4 linked regions of the Homo sapiens genome follow. The protein of the gene in region 1 interacts with the protein of each later gene in a pairwise test. Each region holds a gene or a part of one and is shown in the gene's direction. Other genes may lie near its edges.

The links.
Region 2: the proteins of EPN1 (region 1) and LITAF interact in binary tests that used the Homo sapiens proteins (3 or more experiments, as listed by UniProt).
Region 3: the proteins of EPN1 (region 1) and PLEKHB2 interact in binary tests that used the Homo sapiens proteins (3 or more experiments, as listed by UniProt).
Region 4: the proteins of EPN1 (region 1) and PHGDH interact in binary tests that used the Homo sapiens proteins (3 or more experiments, as listed by UniProt).

What each region holds. Positions count from the first base shown.
Region 1 is NC_000019.10:55,677,741-55,685,409, forward strand, and holds part of EPN1 (epsin-1), read left to right. Parts: intron 1-786; coding exon of another isoform or gene 787-887; coding exon 888-1,115; intron 1,116-7,655; coding exon 7,656-7,669. UniProt on the Homo sapiens protein: Binds to membranes enriched in phosphatidylinositol 4,5-bisphosphate (PtdIns(4,5)P2). Modifies membrane curvature and facilitates the formation of clathrin-coated invaginations. Regulates receptor-mediated endocytosis.
Region 2 is NC_000016.10:11,555,398-11,563,066, reverse strand, and holds part of LITAF (lipopolysaccharide-induced tumor necrosis factor-alpha factor), read left to right. Parts: intron 1-1,900; exon of another isoform or gene 1,901-1,921; intron 1,922-6,331; coding exon of another isoform or gene 6,332-6,336; coding exon 6,337-6,556; intron 6,557-7,669.
Region 3 is NC_000002.12:131,122,227-131,129,895, forward strand, and holds part of PLEKHB2 (pleckstrin homology domain-containing family B member 2), read left to right. Parts: intron 1-1,343; exon of another isoform or gene 1,344-1,441; intron 1,442-3,526; coding exon 3,527-3,679; intron 3,680-4,457; coding exon 4,458-4,560; intron 4,561-7,669. UniProt on the Homo sapiens protein: Involved in retrograde transport of recycling endosomes.
Region 4 is NC_000001.11:119,728,465-119,736,133, forward strand, and holds part of PHGDH (D-3-phosphoglycerate dehydrogenase), read left to right. Parts: exon of another isoform or gene 1-1,169; intron 1,170-1,475; exon of another isoform or gene 1,476-1,935; intron 1,936-6,169; coding exon 6,170-6,302; intron 6,303-6,830; coding exon 6,831-6,979; intron 6,980-7,669. UniProt on the Homo sapiens protein: Catalyzes the reversible oxidation of 3-phospho-D-glycerate to 3-phosphonooxypyruvate, the first step of the phosphorylated L-serine biosynthesis pathway.

The sequences.
Region 1 (7,669 bases):
TCCCTGCTCCTGCCTCTGTCTTTAATCCCTTCATCAGCCTTCTTTCCCATGTGTCCTTGTTTCTGCTGTGGATTCCTGCCCCCTCTGCCCTTGTTCCAGAGGTCTTTCCTGCCCTCCCTCTCCACTTCCTCCTTGCATGGTTTACTGAATGGTTTTTCTGGGCCAGCTTCTTTGCTGGGAAAAGCCACATGCAGACAGACATGTTCTCTGCCCCCATGGGGCCTGTGGGTTGACCTTAGCTACAGAATCAGACGAGAATATAAAATCATGAGGGAGACTGAGTTTACTGATGAGGCCCCAGGGATAGGTGACTGTGATGTTTGGGTGTGCACCTGGGAAGTGTAAGCAGAGCCCTTGGGGTGAGTGGATATCCCTGGATGAGGAAGAAGGAAGAGCGCATGGGCAGGACGGAGGGCCTCCTGATGCGCTGCCGGTGTTTACAGGGCGTCAGTTCTCTAGATGACCGCATGGAGCCCCATTTGACAGAAGAGAAAGCTGAGGTGCAAAAGATCCAGCCCGCCCAGGGTGGCCTTGCCAGGAAGTGCTGAGCCAGGTTGTGGGGCTGCGATCTGCCACTGCATATACTCTGCCTCACTGAGCAGGGGCCCCAGCAGGAAGGAGGCAGCCTGTTTGAGGAACTGAAACATGGATGGGGTTACTTTGAGACCTAGAGGTTAACAAGGGACAGAGCCTTCTGGGCCACAGTTAGGAACTCATCTTTGACCCTGAGGGCTCTGGGCAGGCCATGTCCCATTTGTGTTTCCAGAGGTCCTCTTCCCCTCGCAGATGCGGTGACCTGCCAGCACCTGCCGCAGCCTTCGTCCGGGAGTCGCCCCATCTCTCCACGCATCGGGGCCCTGTGCCCCTTGCTGCTGCAGCCGGGCACCATGTCGACCTCGTCCTTGAGGCGCCAGATGAAGAACATCGTCCACAACTACTCAGAGGCGGAGATCAAGGTTCGAGAGGCCACGAGCAATGACCCCTGGGGCCCATCCAGCTCCCTCATGTCAGAGATTGCCGACCTCACCTACAACGTTGTCGCCTTCTCGGAGATCATGAGCATGATCTGGAAGCGGCTCAATGACCATGGCAAGAACTGGCGTCACGTTTACAAGGTCAGCATCCTGCTCTCCTCCCCGGGCAGGTGCAGGGGCTCAGGTGGGAGGACAGGAGCCCGTGTTGTGCACCCTGCCTGGGATGGCATCCCGGTTCTCAAGAGGAACTGGAGAAGAGTAAAATCTCTCTTTTTGTTTAATGAAGGCAACGAATATAAGGCTAAGAAGTTTGGAGCCTTGTGGTTAAAATCTGTTTTTGAGTGAGTGGTGCGTACGTAAGATTCATGTGCTGAGGAGGCCTGAGAGGGCCCACGGTGCCCATCTCTTCTGTGTGCCCAGACACCCAGTTCCTTTCCTCACAGCAGCCAAGTTTCCGCTCTGGGCCCCATCTATGAATGCCTCTCAGGCAGGTGTGTGCTCCCCGTGGCACAGGCGATGCCACGCTGGGGATGAACGCTGTCGTGCCTGTGAGCAGGACTCAGCGACTGGGTTTTCAGTTTGCTGCTCTTGGGGTCCAGGGGCCTTGGCATCCCCACCTTTGGTCTTTGGTTACTGTGTTCCTCGTGTTACGGCAAAGTGGCCAAGGACATGGGCTGGGGCCGGGTTATACTCCCAGTGGCGGGATCTCAGGCTCGTCCCTGAATCTCCCTCTGTGAGGGCCCATGGAGCCGATTCACGTCTGACTTGGGGCAGGGGCTGGTGAGTGTTAGACTCCTGCTGTTGCGGTCCCGTCGGCAAGCATCTGCAGAAGGCCCGCTCTGGGTGTCTTGGTGCACCAGACCAACAAGGCCCCACCCTCATGCGCTTAGACCTGGGCCTGCTCTGGCGGAGGTCCCTGTCCTTGCTGATCTTTGAGACTTCTGCCTAGGTGAGGGTGGTTCCCTCCACTCACAGATGAGGAGGCTGAGGCCTGGAGCGTTGCAGCACTTACACATGGGAGCAGGGGTTGAGGCTCGTTTCCTGTGACTCGTTTTCATACCCATCCCGACACACCAGGATTGGGTTGAGTCATAGATTGAATCAGTTATTGGTCATTTATTGTGAAGGGCTGGGTGGCGTTTGTTTAGTTGAGAATCTTGGAAAACCCTGGAGGTGCAGGTGAGCCTCTCTGGAGGCAACGAGGAGGGATGGGGCTGGAGGGGTGGGTGTGCAGAGGGGATGAATCCAGAGGGGCCCCAGACGCACATCCTTCCTGGTCAGTGGCTGGGGTGATGCTGCTGGGGGCAGACACAGAGTGGCCTGTGGGCAGGGCTGGCAGGTGCCAAGGCCTGAGAGTCTGCTGGGGAGCATGTGGTGCTGGCAGCCAGGGTGGACGGCAGGACAGGGCAGTGCAGGAGAGGGGACGTGGCCTCCAGTGCCAGGCGGGGCTTGGGCTGCTTTACTGAGGTGTAATTTGCACACAGTGAAACCCAGCCTTTCGAGATAGAGTTCTCTGGATTCTGACAGATGCACATATTTCATAACTGTCATCACAGTCAAGGCATAGAAGGTTTTTGTCACCCCCAAGACCTCCCCTATGGTTTTTGCAGCCCCTCTGGGACTCTCCCCAGGCCTGGCTGTTCCTGCTGTATCCGCCATCCCTGCAGCATCTCTTGATTCTTGGGACTCTCCTTTCTATGATCCCCACAGCAGAGCCTGTAGGATCCCCAGCCCATGTGGCTGAGGACACGGGGTTCCCGCTCCACCCTGAACCACTGGTTCCTCATGCTGGGGTGGGGTTCAGCCTCAGTTCCCCGGGGGAGGGTTGATGGCGTCTGGAAACCTGCTTTGGTTGCTGCTTGTGCTGCCTGCTGGACACTGTCCTGAGAGCAGCTTTGTGAGGTCAGCACGTGTCACTGTTGTCCCTGCTGCGGCATGCGCCGATAGCTGAGCATAGGCACAGGGCAGGGGTCCAGGAGGGGGTCCCTGGGTCCACGTCTAGCCAGCGCCTCCCTTCCTGGCTGACCACTTCTATCCCGCAGTCCCCTTCTGGAAGTACGGGTGATGAGGACAACCCCACAGGCCCAGAGGCCCTGAGCCACTGTGAAGCTGCTACACCCCCTTTGGCCCTCTCCGGAGCCCTCTGTGCTGACCTGTTCTGGCATGAGGGCGAGTCCTCTTGCTTCTCACCATCCCTTCGCCACATGGTCTCATCTTGTCACTTCAGCCCCAGGTGGTGGGTTGTGCAGGAGCAGTCTTTCCACTTTGATGGATGGGGAAACTGAGGCCCAGAGACGGGGGAGGTGGCCTGCCGAGGCTCGTGGGGGAGCTGGGGCTTGGGCCCATCTGTTCAGAGCCCAGGCTGTCCCACCCTGTGGCCCTGCTGGCTGGCACTTTGTGGGCCTTATTGTCCCCGTGGAGAAGGAGGGTGAGCTGTGGGGGCCTTGCAGGCCTGGCTCTGCACGGCCTCCCTGCATGGCCTTGGGGGTGAGTATTGGTGAGTAAGGGCCGGCGTTTATTTGGTACCTTGTACGTGTAGCACACACAGGTTCTCATGAAATCCACGGTTACCCTGTAAAGGAAGTTCTTTTTCTCCTTTTCCTCTGTTTTCCAGATGAGGGAACTGAGACATAAAGGAGCTCAGCTCTACCTCGCAGGAGGTGGTAGAGCCAAGAGGAGCCCCGAGCCCACCCTCTGGGCCCTGCACTGCCACCTCACTTCTGAGGAATGCAGGGTCTCAGTCTTGGCTTTAAACCAGGGGTCAGCAAAGTACAGCCCACTGGTGAAATCCCACTCACAGCCTGTGTTTGTAAATAAAGTTTTATTGGAACACAGCCAGGCCCATTCATCTGTGGCTGTGAAGTAGTTGAGACAGAGAGTATATGGCCTGAAAAACTGAAATGTTTTTCATCTGGCTCCTTACAGAAATGTTTGCTGATCCCTGTTTTAAACTTTATTTCTGCATTGCAGGATGTCCTTGATAAAGCTGTCTTTAACATTAAGAAGGACTATCATTTTATGCAGTTGCCCACTGCTTTTTGGTTGTTTTCAGAAAAGCAAAGGAGAAATAATGACTTATTTTGCAAACTTTTTTTTTTTTTAACTTTTTTAGAGACAAAGTGTTGCTCTGTAGCCCAGGCTGGAATCCAGCAGTACAGTCATAGCTCACTGAGCCTTGACCTCCTGGGCTCCAAGCATGGTTGAGGAATAGCTGGGACCACAGGCACACACCACCATGCCCGGCTAATTTTAAGATATTTTAAATTTTTTTGTAGAGATGGCAGTCTCACTGTGTTGCCCAGGCTGGTCTTGAACTCCTGGGCTCAAGCGATCCTCTTGCCTTGGCTTCCCAAAGGGCTGGGATTATAGTCATGAGCCACTACACCTGGCCCACTTGCTCACTTCTAAAATAAGGTTTTAAATTTTTCATTAAGAAGTTGTATACTAAGCACATCATGAATGTATAACACAGCTGTTACGCATGTGGACACCTGTGTAGCCTTCACCTAGAGGGAGGTAGAGGATGCATTCAGCCTTCCAGGTTTCCTCAGGAGACCTGTCTCCCACAGCACCGTGTCTGATTTCTGTCTGCCAAGACTGTTCTTGAGCTTTATATATGTGGAGTCACACGCGTGGTCTTTTGTGTCTGGCTTCTTTTGCTCACCATCACCATCAGGTCAGCAAGGTTGACCGTGCTGTTGCATAAAGCAGTTGTTCATTTATTTTGAGAAAGTCTCACTGTTGCCCAGGCTGGAGTGCGTTGACATGTTCTCGGCTCACTGTAGCCTCTGCCTCCCGGGCTTAAGCAATCCTCCTGCCACAGCCTCCCAAGTAGCAGGGATGACACGCATGTGCCACCACGCCTAGCTAATTTTTTGTTATTTTATTTATTTATTTTTTTAGAGCTGGGGTTTTGCCATGTCACCCACGATGGTCTTGAACTCCTGGACTCAAGCGATCCACCGACTTTAGCCTCTCAAAGCACTGGGGTTACAGGATTTTGCCACTGCACCCGATTTTATATATTTATTTAATTATTGTTTCTTATTTATTTATTTATGAGACGGAGTCTCGCTGTGTTGCCCAGGCTGGAGTGCAGTGGCACCACCTCGGCTCACTGCAACTTCTGCCTCCCAGGTTCAAGCAATTCTCCTGCCTTAGCCTCCCGAGTAGCTGGGATTACAGGTACTTGCCACCACGCCTGGCTAATTTTTGTATTTTTAGTAGAGATGGGGTTTCACCATATTGGCCAGGCTGGTCTCGAACTTCTGACCTCGTGATCCGCCCGCCTTGGCCTCCCAAAGTGCTGGGATTACAGGTGTGAGCCACCGCGCCCAGCCTGTTTTTTGTTTTTTCTTGAAATGGAGTTTCGCTCTTGTTGCCCAAGCTGGAGTGCAGTGGTGCTATCTTGGCTCACTGCAACCTCTGCCTCCCAAGATCAAGCGATTCTCCTGCCTCAGCCTCCTGAGTAGCTGGGATTACAGGCGCATGCCACAATGCCTGGCTAATTTTTTGTATTTTTAGTAGAGATGGTGTTTCACCATGTTGGCCAGGCTGGTCTCAAACTCCTGACCTTGTGATCTGCCCGCCTTGGCCTCTCAAAATGGTAAGATTATAGGTGGGAGCCACCATGCCCGGCCTTATTTATTTATTTTTAAATGGAGTCTCACTCTGTCTCCCAGGCTGGAGTACAGTGGCGTGCTCTTGGCTCACTATCACCTCTGCCTCCCTGATCCACGGGATCCTCCCACCTCAGCCTCCTGAGTAGCTGGGATTACAGGTGTGCACCGCCACACCTGGCCAGTTGTTTTGTGTTTTTAGTAGAAACAGGTTTCATCATGTTGGCCAGGCTGGTCTCGAACCCCTGACCTCGGGTGGTCCACCTGCCTCAGCCTCCCATAGTGCCGGGATTATAGGCGTGAGCCACCACACCTGGCCTCATTTCTCTTTTATTTCAGTGTATGTGGTAGTCCCGCTGTGTGAGCGTGCCATAGTTGATGTATGCATTTCACTGTGCGTGGGTATTCGCACTATTTCCTGCTTCACAATCTTTTTAGCTGCGATACCAAAGTCCAGAGAGCTCTGGAAACGAAAGTGTTTCATGATCCGTTCGGCACAAAGTCTGACCCAGACTGAAGTGAGGTCGTTCACATGGTGTCTGTTGGTCCCACAGTAGTGTGGCTGTTGGCACGACTCTGCCCAGCGCGTTCTCTTATGTGTTGTATGTGCGTTATTTTCCTGGTCTGAACTCAGGAAAATTCTGAATTCCAAAACACAAGGGCCCCAGGAGTTGTGGACCTGGGACTGCCTCTTGGCTTGGGGTGTGATCAGGCATAGCAATGGCTTACCTGCTTTCCTTTCTTTCGTGTAAATACCTTGAGGGCCGGTTAAAGACTAATCTCTGATTACACTGTAAATACTGTTAACACACCTTTGAAAGGCCTTGCCAGAGCTAGGTCCAGCTGCCTCAGAGGGTGAGGAGATATGAATGGCCCTGGCATCTTTCCTGGCAGATTTCTCCTTGGTTCAGACGGAGCTTAGCTGTGATAGCTGACTCTTCCCCTAGGAGCCCTGGGTGGGTTTCTGTGGCTCTGTGAAGGCCCTGGAATCCCCTGCAGAATCAAAGTTGTGCCTTTTTTTGAGGTCAGTGACCAAGACACCCCCTGCAGAGCCTTAAGGGGGCCATGACTCCTCAAGCCCAGGACTTGAGCCTGAGCTAGGGAGAGCCTCAGAGACCTTGGTCCCCCCGCCCCCACTATTAATTTCAACTTGTTGAAAGGGAGTTTGTTTTCGTATTATAAAATACAAACATACCAAAGGGTGCAGATTGAACGATAATGTTCCCTCCGCCCTGTCCTTTTGCTCCTGGTGGTGTGGAACCTGGGTGCCCCTCCCAAGAGAGCCCGGGCCTACACAGGCCCTTGCGTGGATCTCTTCCCTTCTTGCAGAGGTGATAAACTACTGCTCCAGGCTGTTAGTACCAGCGTGAGGTTTTACAGTCAGAAATACACATTTCAAACTAGTACTAAGACCCCCTTCATTGTGATTTAACTAATGTGGTTTTCTTGGCCATGTTACTTTAGATTTTAGTTGTAAAGAAATAGACAGGGCTCCAGGATGCCAGGCGATGCCCATGGCGGCTGTGGTGCCTGTAGCTGCCATTTCCTCTTTTATTTGGATTGAGATGGAGCTCCTACACTGTGCAGCCCCCTTCATATCGCACAGTTCAGTGGCCTTCGGCCCATTCACAGTGCTGGGCGACCACCTCTGTCCAGCTCCAGAACGTCTTCATTGCCCCAGAAGGAAAACCCATAGCCTTCAGGTGGTCCCTCTCCATCCCTCCCTCCACCCCTGGCAACCCACAATCCACTCCGTCTCTCTGGATTTGCCCATTCTGGATGATTCACGTCGATGGAACCGTAGGCTGTGTGGCGTTCTGTGCTGGCGTCTGTCGCTGAGCGCAGTACCTCCGCGGCTGGTCCCCGTCACAGCGTGGGTCTGTGTTCATTCCTTTGCATGGCCGTGTCGTATTCTGTGGGGACAGATGTGTGTCCACCCACTGGCGACAGGTGGGTTGTGGGCCTTGCGCCCAGTCGGCCGCCCCAGAGCCCGCGTCGCAGGCAGTCTCTGGCCCGCCTTGTGCCCGGCGTGCTGACCGGGCATCCCCGTGCCCGCTCGCAGGCCATGACGCTGAT
Region 2 (7,669 bases), on another chromosome or scaffold:
ACCTCAAGCTCCCAGGCTCGAGCAAATCCTCCGACCTCAGCTTCCTTAATAGCTGGGACTACAAGTTTGTGCAACCGTGTCTGGCTAATATATATTTTTTAATTAAAAAAAATTTTTAAAGATTGTCTTTATATATGATTTTGTGACTCTATTTTTTTTTCTTTTGTTTTGAGACAAGGTCTTGCTCTGTCACCCAGGCTGGAGAGCAGTGGCGTGATCCTAGCTTATTGCAGTCTCAAACTCTTGGGCTCAAGTGATCCTCCTACCTTAGCCTCCAGAGCAGCCAGGACCACAGGCATCTGCCATAACGCCCGGCTAATTTTTGTACCATTTGTAGAGACATGGTCTGAATTTGTTTCCCAGACTGGTCTCAAACTCTTGGGCTCAAGTGATCTGCCCACGTCGGCCTCCCAAAGTGCTGGGATTACAGACGTGATCCAACATGCCTGGGCAAGAATACCTTTCGTTGAGCAAATTGTTGAGAGGTAGAATGAGGAAAACTTTTGGCTAAAAGGGACCCCAAGATATCCCAAGTGGCATATTTATAGATGTGAAAGTGATTCCACAGCTGGGCATGTCAGATCAAAATTCTCCATGGATCAGGAATGCCTCCTTTTCCTTTTCTGTCACCACCGGTCACATTTGGCTACTTAATTTCTGGGCTCCAGTGCAGCATGGAAACGCGAGGCCCTTTGTTCAAAAAGTGTTCGAATTTCTTTTCTTCCTTCTTTTTTTTTTTTTTTTTTTTTTTTTGAGACGGAGTCTCGCTCAGTCACCCAGGCTGGAGTGCAGTGACACGATCTCGGCTCACTGCAGCCTCCATCTCCCAGGTTCACAGTGTGGAGAGGCAGGGCACGGTGGCTCATGCCTGTAATCCCAGCACTTTGAGAGGCTGAGGCAGGAGGATCACTTGAGCCCAGGAGTTTATGACCATCCTGGGCAGCTTAGCAAGACCCTGTCTCTAAGTAAAATTAAAAAGTTATAGCCAGGTATGGTGACACACACCTGTAGTCCCACCTACTCCAGAGGCTGAGACAGGAGGATTGTTTGAGTCTACGAGTTTCAGGCTGTGGCGAGCTATGATCATGCCACTGTACTCCAGCCTGGGCAATAGAGTGAGACCCTGTTTCTCTCTTTCTTTCTCCCTTTCCCTCTTTTTTAAAAAAAAGACATTGTGGAGAGTGTGTGTGTGAGTTTAGGGTGAGGGGGACTAATTGCTGTTCTAAGAGTTTCGTAGTTGGGGGGGTGATAAGGAGGGGATGGGGGGTGATGAGGAGAGGGATGGTTGGTGGGTGGGCCTCTTATCCCAGGAGATAAGCCAAATTGAAATGAAGGCGCAAAACAAGGGAAACAAAATGGGACTAACCGTGGTGGCATTTCCTGGCCTTGGGGCCTGAGGGAGGGAAGACTGTGGAATTTATTTAGAAAACTTCCAAACCAGCGGTTATGAGTCTTTTTTACTATTCTGGCCTGTTGCTCTTGTTCTTTTCAGAATTATAAATGTGTTTGTGTGGCTGTTTGATCTCAAAGCAATGCTCAGAAGATGCAGTGTCTCGAAATCCCAGAAGATAAGATGTTACCACATGAAAGATGGTCTCAATAAAGGGGGAGAGGCGGTGGCCGAGGCCTTAATTTCCAAAACGAGAAACTGGGGCCCACCCATCTTTTAAAGGTCGTCAAAAGAAAGCTCCCATCCTCCCATCCCCCACACCTGTGTGTTGACTCTGTAAAGATGCAGTTTCCTCACTTTGGGAGGAGAGGCCGTGGTTTTTGCAGGAATTGCGCCGCTGCCGAATTCAGCCATTGCCTCTTGGAGGTTTAGGATGCCCCAGGCCTTGTTTTCCCTCAAAGCATTCCATTGGCAATCACGACCAACCATGCTCCTTGAGGATTTCTGTACACACTGGCTTTTCCTGGTCTTGTAAGTTTTTATACGAGTCAGTTTTCACCATAAATCATGGAGGTGGGTCTGGGGCTGTGACGGCGAGTCCTCGACGTTCAACCCGGATGTAGGTCACTCCAGACCCCCAGGGTGCCCTGTCGTTCCCTTTGCTGGAAGTTTCAACAAAGCCAGAAGCAGATGTCAGGGGTTCCCGGGGTCATCTGGGAGGGATGTCCGCTGAGTTTAGGGGCAAGCTGGGACTGCTGCATTTCTGTTCCTGTACGTCAGAGGAAACTAGCAACACGCCTCAAACCACTTTACACCATGTCTCAGTGTTAAACCAGAGCCTGTTTTCACAAACACCTCCTGCGATCTCATTACAGCCCCACCCTGCCCTCCTGCTTCTGTGGCCTTCTCTACTTTGCTTCTTGCTCCTCTTAAAGACCTTCTGTCTCATCTGTCTTTTCTGGGGTTGGGCCTTTCCCCTTCTCTATAACCTTCTGTGACTCCCACGGCTCACAGCTTTGCTGTATATTAGGAGCAGAAAGCAAGCTTCATTACATCATTTAAAATTTTTTAGTAGCTACATTTTTTTTTTTTTTGAGATGGAATCTCGCTCTGTGGCCCAGGCTGGAGTGCAGTGGTGTGATCTCAGCTCGCTGCAACCTCTGCCTCCCAGGTTAAGTGCTGGGATTACAGGCGCACGCCACCAGACCTGGCTAATTTCTGTATTTTTAGTAGAGATGGGGTTTCACCATGTTGGCCAGGCTGGTCTCGAACTCCTTACCTCAAATGATCCACCCATCTCAGCCTCCCAAAGTGCTGGGATTACAGGCATGAGCCACCGTGCCTGGCCGCCACATTTAATGTATTTATTTATTGATTTTTGAGACAGAGTCTCACTCTGTTGCCCAGGCTAGAGTGCAATGGCGCAATCTCAGCTCCCTGCAACCTCCACCTCCCGTGTTCAAGTGATTATCCTGCCTCAGCCTCCTGAGTAGCTGGGATTACAGGCGCCCAATATCACACCTGGCTAATTTTTGTATTTTTAGTAGAGACGGGGTTTCACCATGTTGGCCAGGCTGGTCTCAAACTCCTGACCTCAGGCGATCCGTCTGCCTTGGCCTCCCAAAGTACTGGGATTATAGTCGTGAGCCACTGTGTCTGGCCTCTTTTTTATTTATTTTGTTTTTATTTATTTATTTTTGAGACAGTCTCGCCCAGGCTGGAGTGCAGTGGCGCAGTCACGGCTCACTTGAACTCCTGGGTTTAAGTGATTCTCCCACCTCAGCCTCCCAAGTAGCTGGGACCACAGGGGTGCACCACCATGTCTGGCTAATTTTTAATTTTTTTGTAGAGACAGTGTCTCCCTATGTTGCTCAGGCTGATCTAGAATGCCTGGGCTCAAGCCATCCTCCTGCCTCAGCCTCCCAAAGTGCTGGGATGACAGGTGTAAGCCACCATGCCCGGCCTAGTAGCCACATTTTGAAAGGTACAAAGAAACAGGTGAAATTAACAATACATTTTACTTAACTTCATATATCTAAGCTGTGGTCATTTTAATATATCAATATAAGAAATTATTAATGAGATATTTTACATTCATTTTTTCCTACTAAGTTTTGAAACCCAGGGTGTATTTTTACATTGACATTCTATCCCAAATTGAATGCTAAATTTTTATCAAAAAACATTTTGATCTATATTCAGTGTTCATCAAATTTACCATTGAAAAAATGATTCATATATTCAAGTTGTCCCAGACTTACATAAAAGCTTCCCAATAATTGAATTGTTAGTTTTCACATTTAAATTGCTTAAACTTAAATACAAGTAAAAATTCATTGGCAAGTAAAAAGATGAAAAAGAAGCTAAAACAAAAAAAATTCAGTTCTTCACTCACACTAGCTCATTTCTTTTTTTCTTTTAGACATAGAGTGTCGCTCTGTCACCCAGGCTAGAGTGCAGTGGCATGATCATGGCTCACTGTAGCCTCCACCTGCTAGGCTCAAGTGATCCTCCTACCTCAGCCTCCTGGGTAGCTGGGACCAGAAGTGTGCAACACCATGCCTGGCTAATTTTTTTAATTTTTAAAATTTTGTAGAGAGAGGGTATCACTATGTTGTCTAGGCTGGTCTTGAACTCCTGGGCTCAAGTAATCCCACTGCCTCGACCTCCCAAAGTGCTGGGATTGCAGTCATGAGCCCCCGTGCCCGGCCACAAGCCACATTTTAGACGCCCAATAACCTTACGTGACTGGTGGCTGCTATATTGGGCAGCAGATACAGAGCATTTCCATCCTCACAGAAGATTCTGTTGGACAGCACTCTGATAGAAAGAAGTCTTGAACACGTGTTCTCCAAGGGACTTTCAAAGTTTTCTAGAATGCAGCCCCAACCTATCTTTACTTACTGACTTTCTTTTTATCACGTTCACTCCCCCGCCTCTATTCCACTTTGTTTCGTTTGTTTGTTTTTGAGACAGAGTCTCGCTCTGTTTCCCAGGCTGGAGTGCAGTGGAGTGATCATGGCTCACTGCAGCCTCAACCTCCTAGGATTAAGCAATCCTCCTGCCTCAGCCTCCTAAGTAGCTGGGATTACAGGTGTGTGCCACTACACCTGGCTACTTTTTTTATTCGTTGTAGAGACAGGGTCTCACTATGTTGCCCAGGCTGGTGGTGAATTCCTGGGCTCAAGTGATCCTCCTGCCTCAACCTCCCAAAGTACTGGGATTACAGGCATGAGCCACTGCACCCAGCCCTTTTGTTTTGTTTTGTTTTAGAGATGGGGGTCTCACCATGTTGCCCAGGTTAGTCTTGAGATCCTGGGCTCAGGCTATCCTGCCACCTCGGCTCCACAGAGTGCTGGGATTACAGGTGAGCCACCGCACCTGGTCTCTGTTTCCACTTTGAGGTGAATACCCTTTCTTCGGTTCCTCCAGAGAAGTCTCCTCTTTGGGGCTTGGTTTAGAGGCAGGGCTTCTGAGAAGGACTCTACCCTTCTCCCTGCAGTGGGATTAATTGCTGCCTTGGCTTCCCACGAGTTCTAGAAAATGAGGCAGACAGTGTCGGGAGAGGGGAGTGGTGGTTGTGGCTCGCTGCCCCGGAGCCTCATTTCCCATTTCTCCCGAGACAGGTTTGAATGGCTCTTCTAAGGCAGCCTGAACCCTGCCCAGTTAGAAAAACAGCCACACAAAGAACAGCACTGTGTCTGCTTCCAGCTGCCCCATGGCTGCTGGATCATGGAACATCAGACAGGAGCACACTCTGGGTGCAGGGTGTAATTCTAGGCGAGCAGCAGCTCTGCCAGGGCTGGAGGGAAATCCTTTCTTTGCCCTCACAAAAGAAAATGTGTGCCTGGCTGCTCTGGTGCTCATTTTTCAAAATGAGAACTGGAGTCTATGTGTATTTCCTTCTTAAAAAGCTATAACACAGAGGCTGGGCGCGGTGGCTCATGCCTTTAATCCCAGCACATTGGGAAGCCAAGGCGGGAGGTTCACTTGCCCCCAGGAGTACAAGACCAGCCTAGATAGCAAAGTGAGACCCCCATCTCTACAAAAAATGAAAACATTAGCCGGGCGGGGGGGCACATGCCTGTAGTCCCAGCTACCTGGGAGGCTGAGGCAGGAAGATCACCTGAGCCTGGGTGGTGGAGGCTGCAGTGAGCTGAGATCACACCACTGCACTGTAGCCTGGGTGACAGATCTTGTCTCAAAAAAATAAAACAAAACAAAAAACAAAACTATAACACACATACAAAAAAGTATATACATTTTAATTGTACAACTGAGATTTTTACAGACTGAACATACCTCTGTAACCAGCCCCCAGGTGAAGAAAGAGAACAGGACCCGCCCCCCGCAAAGGCCCCCTCATACCCCTTTCCAGATTCTTCTTCCTCTTCCAAGAGTAACCGCTCCATGGATTCATTTTGCCTATTTCTGACCTTTATTTAAATAGCATCATACAGTGTGCATTTTGTGGCATCTGGCCCCTTTGCTATTTGTGATAATTTGTGGTTGGTTTTTGAATGCCTTTATCTTTTCCGTTACCTGAAACAGTTAGTGAAAACCACAGTGGTTTAAAAACCAAAAAAACCACAAAAAAACAAACAAAAAAAAACAACGAAGAAGAAACACCAGATATGGAAGGTACGTAGGTCATTGTCTGGTAATGGTTTAAGATGTGAAGAAGAAATGACCCTTATTTGGTTGATGTTTCCACTTTGGATTTTCCAGGTTTTGGTGATTTTGGGTAGTAATTATTTACTTTTTGATTAATTCTGGGGTCTTGAAGGGACATTAACCCTCTTCCTAGCTTTTGGACAAAGCTGGATGGAAGTCATTTTCTCAGAATTTCTGTTTGCCAGAAAGAAAATTGAAGACTTAGGTGAAAAAGAGAGGGAGAGATCAACTGAATTTCTTATCTGGTATGTTCTGTTTCTGTTTTAGGTAAAATGTCGGTTCCAGGACCTTACCAGGCGGCCACTGGGCCTTCCTCAGCACCATCCGCACCTCCATCCTATGAAGAGACAGTGGCTGTTAACAGTTATTACCCCACACCTCCAGCTCCCATGCCTGGGCCAACTACGGGGCTTGTGACGGGGCCTGATGGGAAGGGCATGAATCCTCCTTCGTATTATACCCAGCCAGCGCCCATCCCCAATAACAATCCAAGTACGTGTGGCCTCCCAGGCCCCCCTTACCATTCCTTGGCCCTCCACCCTGGGAATCAGGAGAGTGACCGAAGTGACTCTGCCAAAGAGTCTAAGTGAAGTGCCAGTACGTTCCAGTTTTACCCCCTTACCTTGAAATTCCACACGCAGTCTTTTAGATTCCATGTTGGTGAGGCTCACAGCTTTTCCGTAATAAAGTATGGTTTAGGATCTTTCCCATGGTCATCATATACGAATCTTTTGGCACATCTCTTGGAGGCACAACCAACTTTCTTCTGAGAATGGGAGTTTGTGTCTTAAGGGCCCGCACACTTCCTCCTGAGGTCTGATGCAGAACTTCTGCCCTGAGGCCAGGGCCGAGGTAGGAATAGGGAGGAGAAGAAACCGTCCTGAGCAATGTGTGATTGTGTTTTCATACCAGCTCACCCTCAATGCAAGTTGCTCTTCTGCTTTTGAGCAACTAGATGGTCCCTGTCCTTTGGTGCTTCCTTCCGCCCAAGGGTGCCCTGGTATGTCACTGCTTTAGTATCACAGGTAGTTCTGAAAGAAATCTTTAGCTCAGAGAGGGGGCCCGTGAATCAGACTGCCTGGGTTCACATAACCTCCTTGTGCCTCAGCTTCCCCATTTGTAAAATAGGTTTCATCAAGTACCTATTTATAAATATCAGTGAGTTGTTAACATGAGAGGAAGTTGTGTGTGCCAAATACAGAGTACTCGTTTGATAAAAGTGAACTCTTATTGTTGTGTTCAAGTTATTTTGAGCTGGAAGAGGATGAGATAATGACTTTAGATTCTTAGACCATCCTGTGATCAATAAATAGTTTCTTTTTCTTTTTCTTTTTTTTTTTTTTTGAGACAGGGTCTCACCATGTTGCCCAGGTTGGAGTGCAGTGGTGCAGTCATGGCTCGCTATAGCCTGGACCTCCTGGGCTCAAGTGATCCTCCCACTTCAGTCTCTGGAATAGCTGAGACTACAGGCATACAGCACCACACCTGGCTAATTTTTAAATTTTTGTGTAAATCGGGTCTCACTGTTTTTCCAGGCTGATCTTTAACTCCTGAGCTCAAACGATCTTCCCACCTCCCTTGGCCTCCCAAAGTGTTAGAATTATC
Region 3 (7,669 bases), on another chromosome or scaffold:
TTAAAGTGGGAAGAACCAGTCTTATTTATTAAAAAATGCAAGCAGAATATTCTGCTATACTAGAAAGAGTGAAGTTAAGGGAAAAGTGACTACCATGTCATTTATGATTCTAGTCAAAAACTGAGCTGTATCACATACCATTGATTGTTCAGAGACTTGAGTTTATCTATGAGGGTTACTTTCAGAAATTTAGCTAAAGTCAAGTCTACCAGTAAGAATTGATGGCATACCTGAGATGGTTTATCAAAACTATTGTTTACGAATTGTTTGTGTTCCTGTTAAATAGATTTTATGTATATATTCTTAATTCTCACAACAGCTGTATGAGAGGTAAGTGGTATTATTTCCAGTTGAAGAAATTGAGATTCAGTGAGGTTAGGTACTTGTCTAAGTGTGAACTGTGGGTGACAAACCTACATTCAAAGTCAGGACTGTGTGATTTCAACACTGACATTATATGCACCCAGAGACCGGTCTTCAGCCTGTGTGTCTGTGACTAGTTCCATGTTCCCAACCTGGAGCTGAACTGTATGTCCCCTTGTCTGTTAGTCCTGTAGTCTTAGAATAGACAAAGGTGTCGTAATGTTAGCTTCACAAAGAAAGTCCTGGCTTGTTGAAGTCTAGCCCAAGTTTCCTAGTCTTGGGTTTTGCGGTCTCAACGTCCCCATGGTCAGGGGACATGGGGACCCTTGCTCAGACCTTGAGGGTGTGCCCTCCTTTGGCCCTTTGGATGTCCTTTGCCACACCCTTGTTTGAGGGCAAGCTTTCCCTTTTCCACCACAACTTGAAGTAAGTGCTCTGTCAACATAGTGATCAGTGACTCTTTTGACAATTTTGTCCTCCCCATCACGCCTAGCATGGTGATGTACACAAAATAGATGTACTTTAAATAAGTCACATAGACTTTTCCAGTGTTCTGGTCCATGGGTGTTTCAGAAGTGTGTATTCAGACGATTTACTCTGTATATAACCCCATCCCCATATGTATGGGTTAATTTTCCTTCTTTCCTGAAAGTAGAAGTATCAATGCCAGTAAAACGAGGTGAGATACATTATATTCACGGGGTTGTAGAGCAGCAGAGATACACATGTGATGTGGTCACAGGTAGGCAAAGCCAGCCTTGGGACTTATTTTCCTGCCATTGCCACATGTACTGTTGGGACCCAGTCCTGGCCTCTGGAGGACAGCCTGACTTGGGAGTCTGCAGCCAGGGCTTTGATGGCAGGTGAGATACTTGGGCAGAACTCCCTGACCCAGTGGTTCCACCTGTCTCTGTGTTTCTGTGGCTCTATTTAGTAGGGCTTTTTGTTTGTTTGAGACAGAGTCTTGCTTTGTCGCCCAGGCTGGAGTGCAATGGCATGATCTCAACTTACTGCAACCTCTGCCTCCTGGCTTCAAGCAATTTTCCTGCTTCAGCCTCCTGAGTAGCTGGGATTACAGGTGTGCGCCACCATGCCAGGCTAATTTTTATATCTTTAGTAGAGATGGGATTTCACCATGTTGGCCTTGCTGGTCTTGAACTTCTGACCTCCTGGTCCACCCCCCCCACCCCCCCCCCCGCCCCCCGCCCTCGGCCTCCCAAAGTGCTAGGATTACAGGCATGAGCCACTGTGCCTGGCTTTTTTTTTTTTTTCTTTTTAAGACAGGGTCTTGCTCTGTTGCCTAGGCTGGAGTGCAGTGGCGTGATAACTGCTCACTACAGCCTTGATCTTCCAGGTTCAGGTGGTCCTCCTGACTCAGACTCCCAAGTAGCTGGGACTGCTGGCTTGTGTTAGCATGTCTGGCTATTTTTCTCTTTGTAGAGACGGGATCTTGCTTTGTAGTCCAGGCTGGTCTCAAACTCCTGGGCTCAGGTGATCCTTCCACTTCAGCCTCCCAAAGTGCTGGAATTACAGATATGAGCCATTGCGCCCAGCCTATTTGGTAGTTTCTGCACAGCTCAGGTAGTCAAGTGGATGCTTGGGTATCACTTAGTGGTCAGTTAGGCAAGTGCAGTGGACACCCCTCCTGGTGAGGAGAGTGCCTGATACTACTGGCAGGAAAGCCGAATGGCGCATATCTGGTTGACACCAGTTGCAGGCACGGCAACATAAAGGGAAGTACACGAAATGGGATTGTGTGTGTTGGCCAAGAATGGGATGAGATGTACAGGAACAGAAGGTGTAGTGGGCAGTGAATGGATGTGAGGAAGGTAAAGAGATGACCGGAGCTACAACTGGCCTTTAAGTCCACTGCAGGGGTTTTCCCTTCATGCAGTCAAGGAAATTACTGTTTTATATACCAAGTTAAAGGAAATTACTGTTTTATATACCACGTTAAATACCTGGTCCAAGATCACAAATGAAAGGTTGAATTTGCTCAAGCTGACAGAAGTACGTGAGGTAGTAGGATGTGCACAGCATGGGAGGCCAGGCAGGGCCTGGTCTATATCCTGCTGTGCTCATTTATCCAGTGTATGCATCAGGAAGGGGGGAGCCTTCCACACTGTGGGCTTCTGTGGGAAATGGTAGGAAAGAGTATCTGTGAAAACTCTTAAGGACAAAGAAAAAAAACGTGTTTTTTCTTTTTTTTTTTTGGAGACGGAGTGTTGCTCTGTCCCCCAGGTTGGAGGGCAGTGGTGCGATCTTGGCTCACTGCAACCTCCACCTCCTGCGTTCAAGCGATTCTCCTGCCTCAGCCTCCCTAGTAGCTGGGATTACAGGTACGAGCCACCACGCCCAGCTAATTTTTTGTATTTTTAGAGATGGGATTTCACCATCGTGGCCAGGCTGGTCTCGAACTCCTGGCCTCAAGTGATCCATCTGCCTCGGCCTCCCAAAGTGCTGGGATTACACGCGTGAACCACCGTGCCTGGCCAAAATGTGTTTTTTCAAAAGAGAAAGATATTATTTTTATTTGCGTATAGAGACTTCACAGTCCAGCATTTTCTGATCAATCTGGCAATTTAGACAATATTTGGAAATTTAGAAAGTTGAAAAGTTTGAGAGGTTTAAAGTTTAGTACTGTATGAGGAATTAAATGTTAGATATGTTTCATTTGCTGAAAAGCAAGCTTTTTAATAGAAACCCTAACCGGAAAGTGTTGGAACTTCTAAGTTGGTTGGCAGCATTCTCTGTTGACAGTGTGTGCTGCATGCAGCCTGTTAAAGCACCAGTTGGCGGGCCCTGTGCTCTGCTTTCCCTTTCATTGTGAGGGACTGCTTTGGGTAATTCTATACAGGTGTAATTAAGGGGCCAGGGGAAGAGTTCTTTTTGTTTCTGCTGTGAATTAGAGGACTATGTCCTTGCTCTTTTGGCGCAAAGCCAACCTTTCAGATTTCTAAATTTTGAAGGCTGAGCATGGTGGCATGTGCCTGTAGTCGCAGCTAAACGGGAGGCTGAAATGGGAGGATTGCTTGAGCCCAGGAGTTCAAGGCTGCAGTGACCTATGATCATGTTTGTGAATAGCCACTGCATTCCAACTTGGGCGAAATAGTAAGACTGTCTCTAAAAAAAAAAAAACAACCGTACTATTTTTTTTTTCCAGGTACTATTTTGAAGCGCTGGAAGAAGAACTGGTTTGATCTGTGGTCGGATGGTCACCTGATCTATTATGATGACCAGACTCGGCAGAATATCGAGGATAAGGTCCACATGCCAATGGACTGCATCAACATCCGCACGGGGCAGGAATGTCGGGGTAAGCTGGCCTGTCTTGGCCAACTTCTGTCTTCTGCTCTTCCTCTGTCTTGCTGGGAGCTTGGTCCTCTTCCTTCCCTGTTCTGCTTTCATTAACAGATTGAAGAAGGGCTCCATCTCAGAGGGGCGACCACAGTGGGGCCCCAGGCACTTAGATTATGAACCACATGGTCGGGAAATATCAGTGTTCTCAGTCCACGTCCCTCGTTCTCGTGGAGAGGGAGCCAGAGCTCTGGGAACCTCAGGAAGCACAGGCCACCCTAGACTACGTTGATTTTGTACTCAGAAACTGGCTTCTGTTTGATGGTGACTCCAGTCAATTGCTTAAAATCTGGGATGTTGGCCAGGCATGGTGGCTCATGCCTGTAATCCCAGCACTTTGGGAGGCCGAGGTGGGTGGATCACGAGGGCAGGAGTTCAAGACCACCCTGGCCAAGATGGTGAAACCCCAACTCTACTAAAAATACAAAAAAATTAGCCAGGTGTGGTGGCAGGTGCCTGTAATCTGGCTACTCAGGAGGCTGAGGTAGAGAATTGCTTGAACCCGGGAGTCAGAGGTTGCAGTGAGCCGAATATATTTTGTGGACGTCATCTTGGCAGCTGGTCTTGTCAGTCAGCCTAGCTATGTTCTTTCTGCATTCTTGGAAAGGCAGAGGGTTCTTTCATAGATGTAGCACTTGATTTATTGTCTAGTCCTTTGCTTCTCTGAGCTGGTAGTTCTTAGAAAATGTAAGAAGAAATCCTGAAAAAAGTTCCTTTATTCTGCTTATTTTTCATAGATACTCAGCCCCCGGATGGAAAGTCAAAAGACTGCATGCTCCAGATTGTTTGTCGAGATGGGAAAACAATTAGTCTTTGTGCAGAAAGCACAGATGATTGCTTGTAAGTTTTGCTTTCTTATGTGTTTAATTTAAAAAGTATTTTCTATTTTAACTTCTGATTACCAAAAAATGAAAAGAAAGGGCGTGGAGTTTTCTTTCAGGCATCAGAATAAGGGACTCAGTGGATGTATGAGAGAAATGCAAGAGTCGCTTTTCCAATTCTAGTTTCTGCCTCTCTCAGACTGCCTAGGCCGATCCCATTGTGGTGAAAATGGCAGAAAGGAATAGCAGTCTCATCATGCTGTCTTTCATTATTAGATTCACAGTGGGTAACGGGCATAGTTGAAATAAAATGACCAGAAAAGCAAGAAAGTAAAGAGTAAGGAAACTGTCAGTTCCTAGGGCTGCTGTCACAAATTGCTGAACACTGAGTGACGGAAATGGCAGAAATTCATTGTCTCATAGTTCTGGAGGCTGGAAGTCTGGAATCAGTGTGTCAGCAGATCCTTGCTCCCTCTGAGATGCTGGGTAGGATCCTTTCTTGCCTCTTCCTAGCTTCTGGTGGTTGCTGGTAGTCCTTGGTGTTCTTTGGCTGACAGCCACATCACTCCGGTCTCTGCCTCTGTTGTCACATGGCCTTCTTCGGCTGTGTCTGTGTCCAGAATTCTCTTTTCTTATAAAGGACACCAATCATAATGGATTAAGGACCCACCTTAATTCACTATGACCTTATCTTAATTTGATTCCATATGCAAATATCCTATTTCCACATAAGGTCCCATTTGAGGGTACTGGGGATTAGGATTTATACATATCTTTTTCATGAGGACACAATTGAACCCATAATAGAGACTTTTGAGAAAGATGGTGAAATGGATTAGAGATCATCTTCCCTGAGGGGAAAACATTTCAATGGTGCAACCAAATAAAGAAGTTTGATCTCAAGCACAAACTACAAACAGTTAAAGAAAGAAATAGATGATTCTACTGAGATGTTCTTCAATCCTACCCGAATCCCAGAAGCAGTGACAAGATGAGTTAATTAAATCTTGCAAATTTTCAGTATTACCCTGTAATCTGGAGTGATGCTGATTAAGTGTAAGTTACTTTTTGGAAAAGCTAGGGAAAAAATCCTTAAGAATGTGATGTCCTTGGGGCCTCAGCAGAGGCTGGACGGTTCTCCCAGGACTCATCATTGCAGGGCAGTGAAAGGCACTGAAGCTCACAGGAGTTGGGTAATTTTCTGTCTGGTGAAGTGAGCCCTAGCATGGGACATTCAAAGGAATATGCTCAGAAGAGAGTGTAGGACCCAGAGTTTTCAGAAAAGACTTACTCGGTCTCAGAAGAAATGTCCTTCTCTTCTAGCCCTGTGCCCTCAGATTACAGAATGTTGATTGTGAGGGTAACACCTAGCCATCAAACTGTTGCTGGGCTGGACTGAGGTAGAACAGGGTGGAACTACCAGTTGATACCAGATTAGGTAGGAAGCGTGTCAAGGAGAAATAACTCATACTTTATGAGAGCAAACAGCAGTTTTAGATATCACTTCCCATGTTAAACGTGAGCAGGATGTAAAGAAGTGGCTTGGCAACTATGCAGATATACCATGAAGGAAAAATAAGAAAAGGAAAATGCAAGCCTCAGGAAAAGCTCCTAGAGTGGAGGAAAATAAAACCCAAGAAACAGGAGCAGAGTCTTCAGGAATGCTTTCCTGGCCACCATATTTAAAATTGTATCTCCCTGTCCCCATACACACTCACCATCTATCAACTATTTATCTTGTTCATCATCTGCTTTCATTAGAATATATGCTGTGTGAGGGCAGAGATTTATGTTTCTTTTCTGCTCTTTTGTGTCTGTAACTTAGAAGGTCTGTTGCTGTCAAGAGGGTGCCATTCACGTTATAATCTGAAGAAAGTGGTCTTCCCTTCAATACAACCCCAAATGAAAAGTGAATCATTGGCATGGAAGAAAAGACTGGAGATACTCTCAGTGACAGGAAAAAGATGAAAAGATCAGAGATATGTTAGACTAAAAAAAGTTCAGAAAGATTATTGATGTCCATAAAGTGTACAACCCAAAAGAGAGAATTACAAATCTAAGGCAAGAAAAATGTTCTGAAATAATCGAACTGAATTGGCAGACCAAAGTCCCTACTAGACTCTTCCACCTGATATGACAACAAAATCTATATAAGATATATGAATAATCCAGTATGATACCCTTTAGCAAAGTGAATGACAATGGTATGCCACATACAAAATCAGTTGGGGAATTTTGCAACTTAACTGCATTCCTTAGAAAGCTAGAACACTTGGGCTGGGTGTGGTGGCTCAAGCTTGTAATCCCAGCACTTTGGGAGGTCAAGGCGGATGGATCACCTGAGGTCAGGAGTTCGAGACCAGCCTGGCCAACATGGTGAAACCTCGTCTCTACTAAAAATACAAAAATTAGCCAGGCGTGGTGGCAGGCACCTGTAATCCCAGCTACTTGGGAGGCTGAGGCAGGAGAATGGCGTGAACCTGGGAGGTGGAGGTTGCGGTGAGCCAAGATCACACCACTGTACTCCAGCCTGGACAACAGAGTGAGACTCCATCTCAAAAAAAAAAAAAAAAAAAAAAAAAAAAGAAAGCCAGAACACTTGAAAATAAGTGAATGAATCTTTCAACTCAGGGAGATAGTAAAATGAGAATAAAACATAAAAGGAATTGATGAAGATAAGAGGGATAGGGTCAGTAAGAAAAGTAAGGGGTAAAGGAGTGAGGGAGTGCACAAGAGAACACTATTTTGTTTTTTGAGATGGAGTTTCGCTCTTGTTGCCCAGGCTAGAGTGCAATGGTATAATCTCCGCTCATTGCAACCTCTGCCTCCCGGGTTCAAGCACTTCTCCTGCCTCAGCCTCTGGAGTAGCTGAAATTACAGGCATGTGCCACCACGCCCAGCTAATTTTGTGTTTTTAGTAGAAGCTTGGTTTTACCATGTTGGCCAGGCTGGTCTCGAACTCCTGACCTCAGGTGATCACCTACCTTGACCTCCCGAAGTGCTGGGATTACAGGCGTGAGAGACTGCTTTTTGCCTATGAATTAAGAAAGCTCTTGTGATACTTAAGGTTCAGATATCTAGTTTTTTTTGACAATATAGTGTAAAGTTGGTAGGTATAGAGATTGTTA
Region 4 (7,669 bases), on another chromosome or scaffold:
CCTATGGTGGCTGGAAGACCTCACACCGGTCTCAGAAATCACACCTAACTCCTGTCTTCCCCCAGGTCTCTGCCTTTTCCTACTCTGGGAGCTCAGTAGGCTTCTGGCTACTCCCTTAGCCTGATTGCAACCCTCTGGTTGCCATCAGTAGCAGTGCCACCCACTTGGGCTAATCCAGGAGACCTTGCAAATGAGAGAGGCAATTCAGCTAAGAGAGGGGATCTGCAGGGCTTCCCAGATAGGCCAAAGAGATGAACCCACTAAGGCTACTATGGGACATCTCTCTGTTCACTTTCTGTTTTAGGGAATTACAGGGATTATGGGGTCAAACTGCAGCCAGGAAGTCTTTAAACATTAGGAGATCAGTTTTGACAACCAGATCATGTCAAATCTAGAAAAGTTTACATAGAGCTGCTATGGAACTCTCCCTTTTTCTACATCCCTCCTACCTTCTTAGAGTTAGAAGGGATCTTAATAGATTAACCCTTAATTTTACATTGACATCTAGAATTTGTAAGCTTATGCCTAAGGACTCATAGCAAATGGACAGTAGCCTAGAGCCTGGTGAGCATCCCATTGTACACATTGAATATTATCCTCTCCCTCCTGCCTCCACTCCCCATCTTATTTATTTAAGTCAGCCAGATATCTTTCCTAAGCCTCTGCACTGAGAAGGGCCAGGTGTATTCTTGATCCCTGGACTCCTGAGAGAGGCAGATGTAGCCCAGCAGGATCATTGATCATGTAAACAAACCACAGCCTTGCCCTCTGTGCAGGGATGGTGGGATGCCATAAGCCACAAAGAGCACTCCCTCCTCCATCCTCTTTTGTAAGGGATCAAGGGTCAAGGTTTAGTCCATGGAGAATTTTGATATAAAAGGCAGAGGTCAGGAGTTAAGTAAAACTAAGAGCACTCATAGCCAAATAGGTGAGCATTTCATTGATGAAGCAGTAACTGGGAGACAGGCTCCAGACCAGTGGCCGTTCCAAGGCTCCTGCCCCCTTCCCCAGGGGGTCCTCTTCCCCATGACTCCCCTTCCCCAGGCTTCCTTCTCCGTGGCACCACTACACATCAATATTCCTGGCAATATTCTTCATCATGGAGACTTCGGCAGCGACTTCAACCAGATGAAAAGCCCCACCTCATTCCTGAATGATTGAGGTGCTAGGTAAGCTTGTCTGTCCATCTGGCACTGCCCAACTCTCTACCCTGGGATGCTTCCAAGAGGTGCATGGGTACCTGGGACCTTGAGCATCAGTGTCAGGAAATGGCTGACACCTCTCGTGCATGTGTTTGATTGAAAGAGATGTCTACGGCCTGCTCATTTCAGTGTTAATCTGTGCCTCAGAGCAGGTCACCCACTGAATGTTTTATTCCCATTCCCAGCATGGTGTGGAGGGTGCCAGTGCCTTCACTTTGCATTTCTTCTGTCCAGATGTCTCTGGAGGGTCATTCTTAACTGTCTTGCTTCCAGAACATGCTCTTTGTAAACCCCTGAAACATGGCTTGGATCATTCCGTCTCCCACCTCAGCCCCTCCGGAGCTGCCTGGACCTCATCATTCCGGAGAGTCTAAGTGGCCTCTTCTCGTGCTCAGCTGCTTACCTCAACCACGTCATTATCATACTTTTGAGTCTGGATGAATTTTGTCTTAGGGCGGAGAGCTCATCAGTTCTACCGGTCTTGGAGAACAAGATTTTCTAAAGGGAAAGGAAGATTCTTGAACATATTGTGAAAGAGATGTATAAGCACCCAGACAGGAAATGAGGATAAGTGTTTATTAAACACAAGTTATTTCATACTAGCCTCATCCTCTTTTTGGAAACCATTATTAAACTGGTAGAGTATGGAAATCCCTAGATGTCAGATACCCGGACTATTTAAAGTTATGTTTTAATCATGTAATAAAGGAATGCATTCTCATATAAATTAAAACTTGGACAAGGCTATACTTGATTACCATCTGAACCCTAGTCTCCTCACGGTAAACATCAGTTTAGCATGTCATCCGAGACTTTTCTATGCATTTGCACAGAATGCATACAGTTCCATGCCTGTGGATGGATTCTTTGGCTGCAAACAATAGAATATTGTTTGTGATGTTAAGAAAAAAACATGTTTATCTCAGAACAACTAAATCTAGCATATTTTTAAACAGTTGTGTGGAATTTTATTGTGCAGATAAATTGCTTTTTATTTGGCCATTCTCTCAATGATGGGTATTTAGATTGTGTATAGATATGGACTTTGGTAAGACATCTTTCATGATTCCCTCGGGGTTCGGATGGAGCCCCTTGAGCTTGGTGCTATTGAAGGGATTAGTGCTTGGTGCTGTTGTGGAATGGGCCACCTCAGTTTGGAGGGAGATAGTATGCAATAGTGCTCCACCTTGCCCACCATTCTCATCAACAGCCTGAACCATGTGTCATTTGTGGATGGCAGGAAGCAAGGAGAGGTAGTTAATACTTAAGGGTGCAGAATCAGGTCCAAAAAGACATATGAAGGCTAGAATGGTTGGGCACCCTCACAGGAAATTTAGCTAGAATACATTTCTGCACCCTACTTGTGGGTCCAAAAAGCAGCTAGACAAGTTTTAGATGTAGAAGCATTTGTCAAAAGCTTTTCTGGGGGAGCAGGGCTTTGGTTTACAAAAGAGCAGTGTGGTTGTCAGTGGCATAGCTGATAGAAAAGGTAACCTGACATTTGGCAGCATTAAAAGAAGTATGGCTTCCGGAGCAAGGGAGGTGACATTCCTCACACTGTGGCCTGACCTGCAGCCTACCTGTGGTCTGAGTCATACAGGTCTTAACGCTCTATACTGTTGTGTCTGCGAGAGACTTTTTCTCAATAGTGTTGCTGAATGACAGGTCGTGACCTCAGAGACTCAGCTCATTCATGCTGGTGTGTTCCTTAGAATGTGTTAAGAGGCACAAACCAATCAAGAAGCGAGCCTTGTGCTTTATGATCAAGGTTTTCCTTGAGGGAACAGACAAGCATCTCTTAACAGTTTCTTTGTAGCCAGCGTTGTGATGAATCCAACTTTAGCCCAGAGGGTTGGATGTTGAACCTGAGGCACCAGTTATCACCGATTTTTTCAGGTCCAGCTAATGTTTGCTGAGGTCTACTGTGTCGGTTCCTGTGCTTGAAATGACTCTGCAGGGTCAGAATTATTATCCCAGGTTTACAGATAAGGAAACTGAGGCCCAGGAAGGTTCTATGATATGCTGAAGATAATGCAACTATGAACTGGTGAATTTCGGCTCAGCCTTCCAGGCTGGCATTCTTTGCCCAGTACCACTTAACTTTATTCATGATCCATTTTAGGTAAACAGTCCCTGTGCCATGCCGGTATGCTTAGCTATTCCAAAGACAGATACTCTCCAGGATGGGCAGCTCCTATCTCAGTGTGTTACCTGGAATGCTTACTGCCCAGAGCAGTGATTCTCAAACTCAAGAGCCTCGGGTTCTGGCAAGGTGCCTTAGGGACACAGGTGGGAGCAAGGAGGGGCCCAGGGAGACAGCAGGTGGTGGCACATTGAGCCTTTACCTCTGCAGCTTTGAATTGACCTATTTTTATATTTGGGTCTCTGTTTAAGATTTCATTGCCGTGGTAGGGAGAGTTCCAATGCTAAACTAAAAATTCAGCTGTGGGGCAGAGAGAGCACGTGACGGTGAGGGTTCTTCTTCAGAGCCTCTTTAACTGGGAGGCCTCCTTGCTCTCCTCTTTGCTCTGCTGAGCCAGCAAGGCCCTGCAGCCAGCATACCAGCCTCTCAGGGCTGTCTTCTGTGACCTCAGGCAGGTAGGAGCCACCAGCTGCCCTGGAGTCCTGCTTAGAAAGTGAGGCTTCCTCTGTTGCCTCAACATCAGGAGTCTGCCCTGGGGCTGGGATTGAGGTGAGGGAACCCCTTCATGTTTCTCCCCAAGGCTTCTCTCCGGGAGTAGTCTTTGAATGGTGGGTACCCAGAGGTGCTCCAATGTCTGTATATTAGGACATCTGACCCTTTCCAGGACACACCAGGACCCTGACAGGCACGTGTGTCCTGGGCCTGTTGTCACCCTTTCCATCCCCTCAGTGTTGTCTCCTAGTGTCGGAACCCCAACCCCCAGCTGAGTTCAGCTCTTCTCTGCCCTGGTTATCTCAAATGGAAAATGAGAACAGAGGTTTGCTCAGCCAGATTCCTTCCCTGCAGTCATCTGCAGATAAATGAGATACTCTCTGTGAAAGAAGGAAGCTGAGTCAGTGCTTCGCTCACCCCTGAGGAAGATGCTCACCTGCTCCTCTCCCCAACCCCCTCCCTCCAGCCCCAGTCACCTGTCTGTGGAGGGGGCCAGGTTCAGCCTGCAGGGTCCTTCCTCCTGCCAGCCCCCAGGTTGTTCTTGGCTCCTGAGCATGGAGTAGACGTCAGTCAGGCTGGACCTTGTGATCTCTATTGGTGTTCCCTTCCTCTCCCCACTCCATATGAGAAAAAAAAATACATCTGGATTAGAGATGAACAGGGCCATTGTTCTGGCCGGCCTCAGGGCCAGCAGACGAAGAAGACTTGTGACAACGATGGCAGGGATCCCATCTCCTCGCCTGGACACTTTCTCCTCCCCACCAGAAATGAGTAGGTTACAGCCGAGGGGAGCAGCAGTGTCTGAAAAAGACCACCAGCGTTCTGAGCTGGAGGTTCTTATAGGGCGTGGGAGAGGCAGCATCTTTCCCCAAAACCTGCCTGATGGTTGGTGTGGGGCCACTTGGCTTTCCTTATTCCACAAGGCTAATGATGAAAAAAGGGATCCAGAGGCTTCACCTTAATCATAACCATTTTAGCTTCTGCCCTAGAATTACTGAATTTGAAGTCCTCTTTCCTATTACGTTCTTTTTTATTTTGTTTTATTTTTTTTTTTTTTTCTGAGACATCTTGTTCTGTCACCCAGGCTGGAGTGCAGTGGCACAATCTTGGCTCACTGCAGCCTCAACCTCCTAGGCCCAAGTGATCCTCCTGCCTCAGCCTTCTGGGTGGCACAGGTGCATGCCACCAAACTTGGCTAGTTTTTTAAATTTTTTGTAGGGGGGGGGGTCTGACTATGTTTCTCCAGCTAGTCTCTGACTCCTGGGGTCAAATGATCCTCCTGCCTCAGCCTCCCAAAGTGCTGGGATTATAGGTGTGAGCAATGGCACCCATCTTTCCCATTATATTCTAAAGTATCTATACTGTATCCCTAATTTCAAAAGTAATTTATGAATAATGTAGTAGAAAACTTGAAAGCACAGGAAAGCAAAAAGGAGAAAAATAATTCCACTACCCAGAGACAACCGCTGTTAAAGTACTATGCTGTGTATTCTTTGTTTTTGTCTAATCCTGGGCTCACTCTTTACATTCTGTCTCGGGGTTAAGGGGGATTTCTCTTCAAATAATTCCCAGTGATTGAATGTGAGAGTGAGAGATGGCTGCAATCATCTGCCCAGCTCCTTTATTTAGGGTTGAGGACCCAGGTCCAGGGGAACTGACCTGTACCTTTCCACACAGTGGGCAGTGACTGGGGGAGGACACAGGTCAGGCTTCCTGATTTAGAGGGCATGCAGTCTTGCTCCCACTCTGGGTCCTGCCTTGTACCCCTGTTGTCCTCCTCCTTCGCTTCTGCTCACTCTGTTTTAGTACCTGATGCACCTGTTTCCTGGACTGGACCCTCCAGCTGCAGCTGCCATTTCTCCTTCTCCCTTTCCTGGCTGTCCGCTCCCTACATGACTGCCCTCCCTCCCTCAGGACTCCCTGCTTTCTAAGGACTTCCAAGCTCCACCTTGTCCAGACCTATATGAGCTATTGTTGCATCTGTGTGTGATCACAGCATGGAGGCAGACGCACCTTCTTTTGAGCTCTGGCTGTGCCCCTCCTCATTGTGGAAGCCCTGCTTCCCTCAGCTCTCAAGCAGACAAGAACAGTCCCAGCATCATTGTGTGGTCATGAGAATTAATTAAGCTGATCATGGTACTTAGTATATGGTAAATAGTACTTAGTATGTGGAACATGGTACTTAGTGTATGGTAAATTAACTGGAGAATTAATTAAGCTGAGCATGGTAGTTAGTATATGGTAAATGCTCAAAAAATGTTTGCCATTCTTAATAATAACAATACTAATAATTAAGAATGACACTTCCTCCCTCTCTCTTGCTTCCAACCAGACTATAGGGTATGACCCCATCATTTCCCCAGAGGTCTCGGCCTCCTTTGGTGTTCAGCAGCTGCCCCTGGAGGAGATCTGGCCTCTCTGTGATTTCATCACTGTGCACACTCCTCTCCTGCCCTCCACGACAGGTAGGTGTGTCCTTACATTGTGGATTGGTCACAGAAGCCACAGACCAGTTAACAAATGGGCCCTCCATCTGGGCCTTCCCCAGACAGTGGTAACCAGCTGTGGGGAGAGGTCCACCTGGGTCCTGCAGAGGCTGGTGTTTTGTTAGACACCCCTACGTTGGATAGGGGAGGGTGAGCCAGCTAGAAGTGCTTGGGGTCTAGGTAAGCTGGGCACAGGGACAACCAGTGACCCCCATGGATGCTTTCTGCAGCCCCTGCAGGGCTTTCTGATTCCCAGACCCACTTGAAACAGTAATATCTCAAGAATTTCTAAGATGTTTCTAAACTGAGTCTGGCCCAGATCCATAACAGGGACTCCTGCCCCAGAGCATCTGAGGAGGAAGAGATGAGAGCAAAGAGGCTGCCGTCCAGCAGGAGAGAGGCTCTGGGAAAGAGCTGGCTCAAGGAAAGGGAAGACCTCTGGAAGCCAGGGATGAGCGTGGGGATCCTGGTGCTGCCCCAGCAGGAAGATGCTTCGCTTTCTTCCAGGCTTGCTGAATGACAACACCTTTGCCCAGTGCAAGAAGGGGGTGCGTGTGGTGAACTGTGCCCGTGGAGGGATCGTGGACGAAGGCGCCCTGCTCCGGGCCCTGCAGTCTGGCCAGTGTGCCGGGGCTGCACTGGACGTGTTTACGGAAGTAAGTGCCTGGCAGCCTCAGCGTCAGGAGGACGGGAGAGATAGGGAGCAGAGAGGCCCATGGCAGGGAAAGCCTGGCGTTTTACAGAAAGCCTCTAGCTTATTGTCTCTTTCATCCATGGTAAAAGGAGAAAACTGTGTTGCCAAAAACACACCTTTGTGGTTTGAGGAGTCCTTGCGGAGCCTGGTATGGAGGCAGCTATGTGGTTTTCTGCAAAACTCGGGCTTTAAAGGGGACCCAGTTCCTGGTTCCGGGCTTCTCAGACTGCTAACATATTGACAAAGATAAAGCCACAAATCAGTTCTGAAGTTGAGGGTCTGGAGCAGGAAGAGAGGGGGCTTTAGTGTATAGTTGAGGGACCCTGATGGAAATGCAGTCCCATTGCCAAGAAAATGTCCTTTTCAGTGTCCATGGGCATTCTTTTTCCCTTCTTCTCTTGCTGGGTGGACAGAAGCCCGAGGATACTGGCAGTATTCCCTCAGGGTCCTCGGGGTGGGCTGCTTTCCCAGCTGGAGCAGAGGCTCAGCCTCACACCAGATCCAGTAGGGAAGAGTGCATTTGCACTCGAATCCTTTTGGCTCCTCTCCTGAAAGATCCTGTCCCCAACATTGGAGCTTCCCCTGGTGAGGAAGGGGAAAGGACATGGACTTTGGATTAGGTAGTTGTGGTTCGCAGGTTACTAGCTGTGTG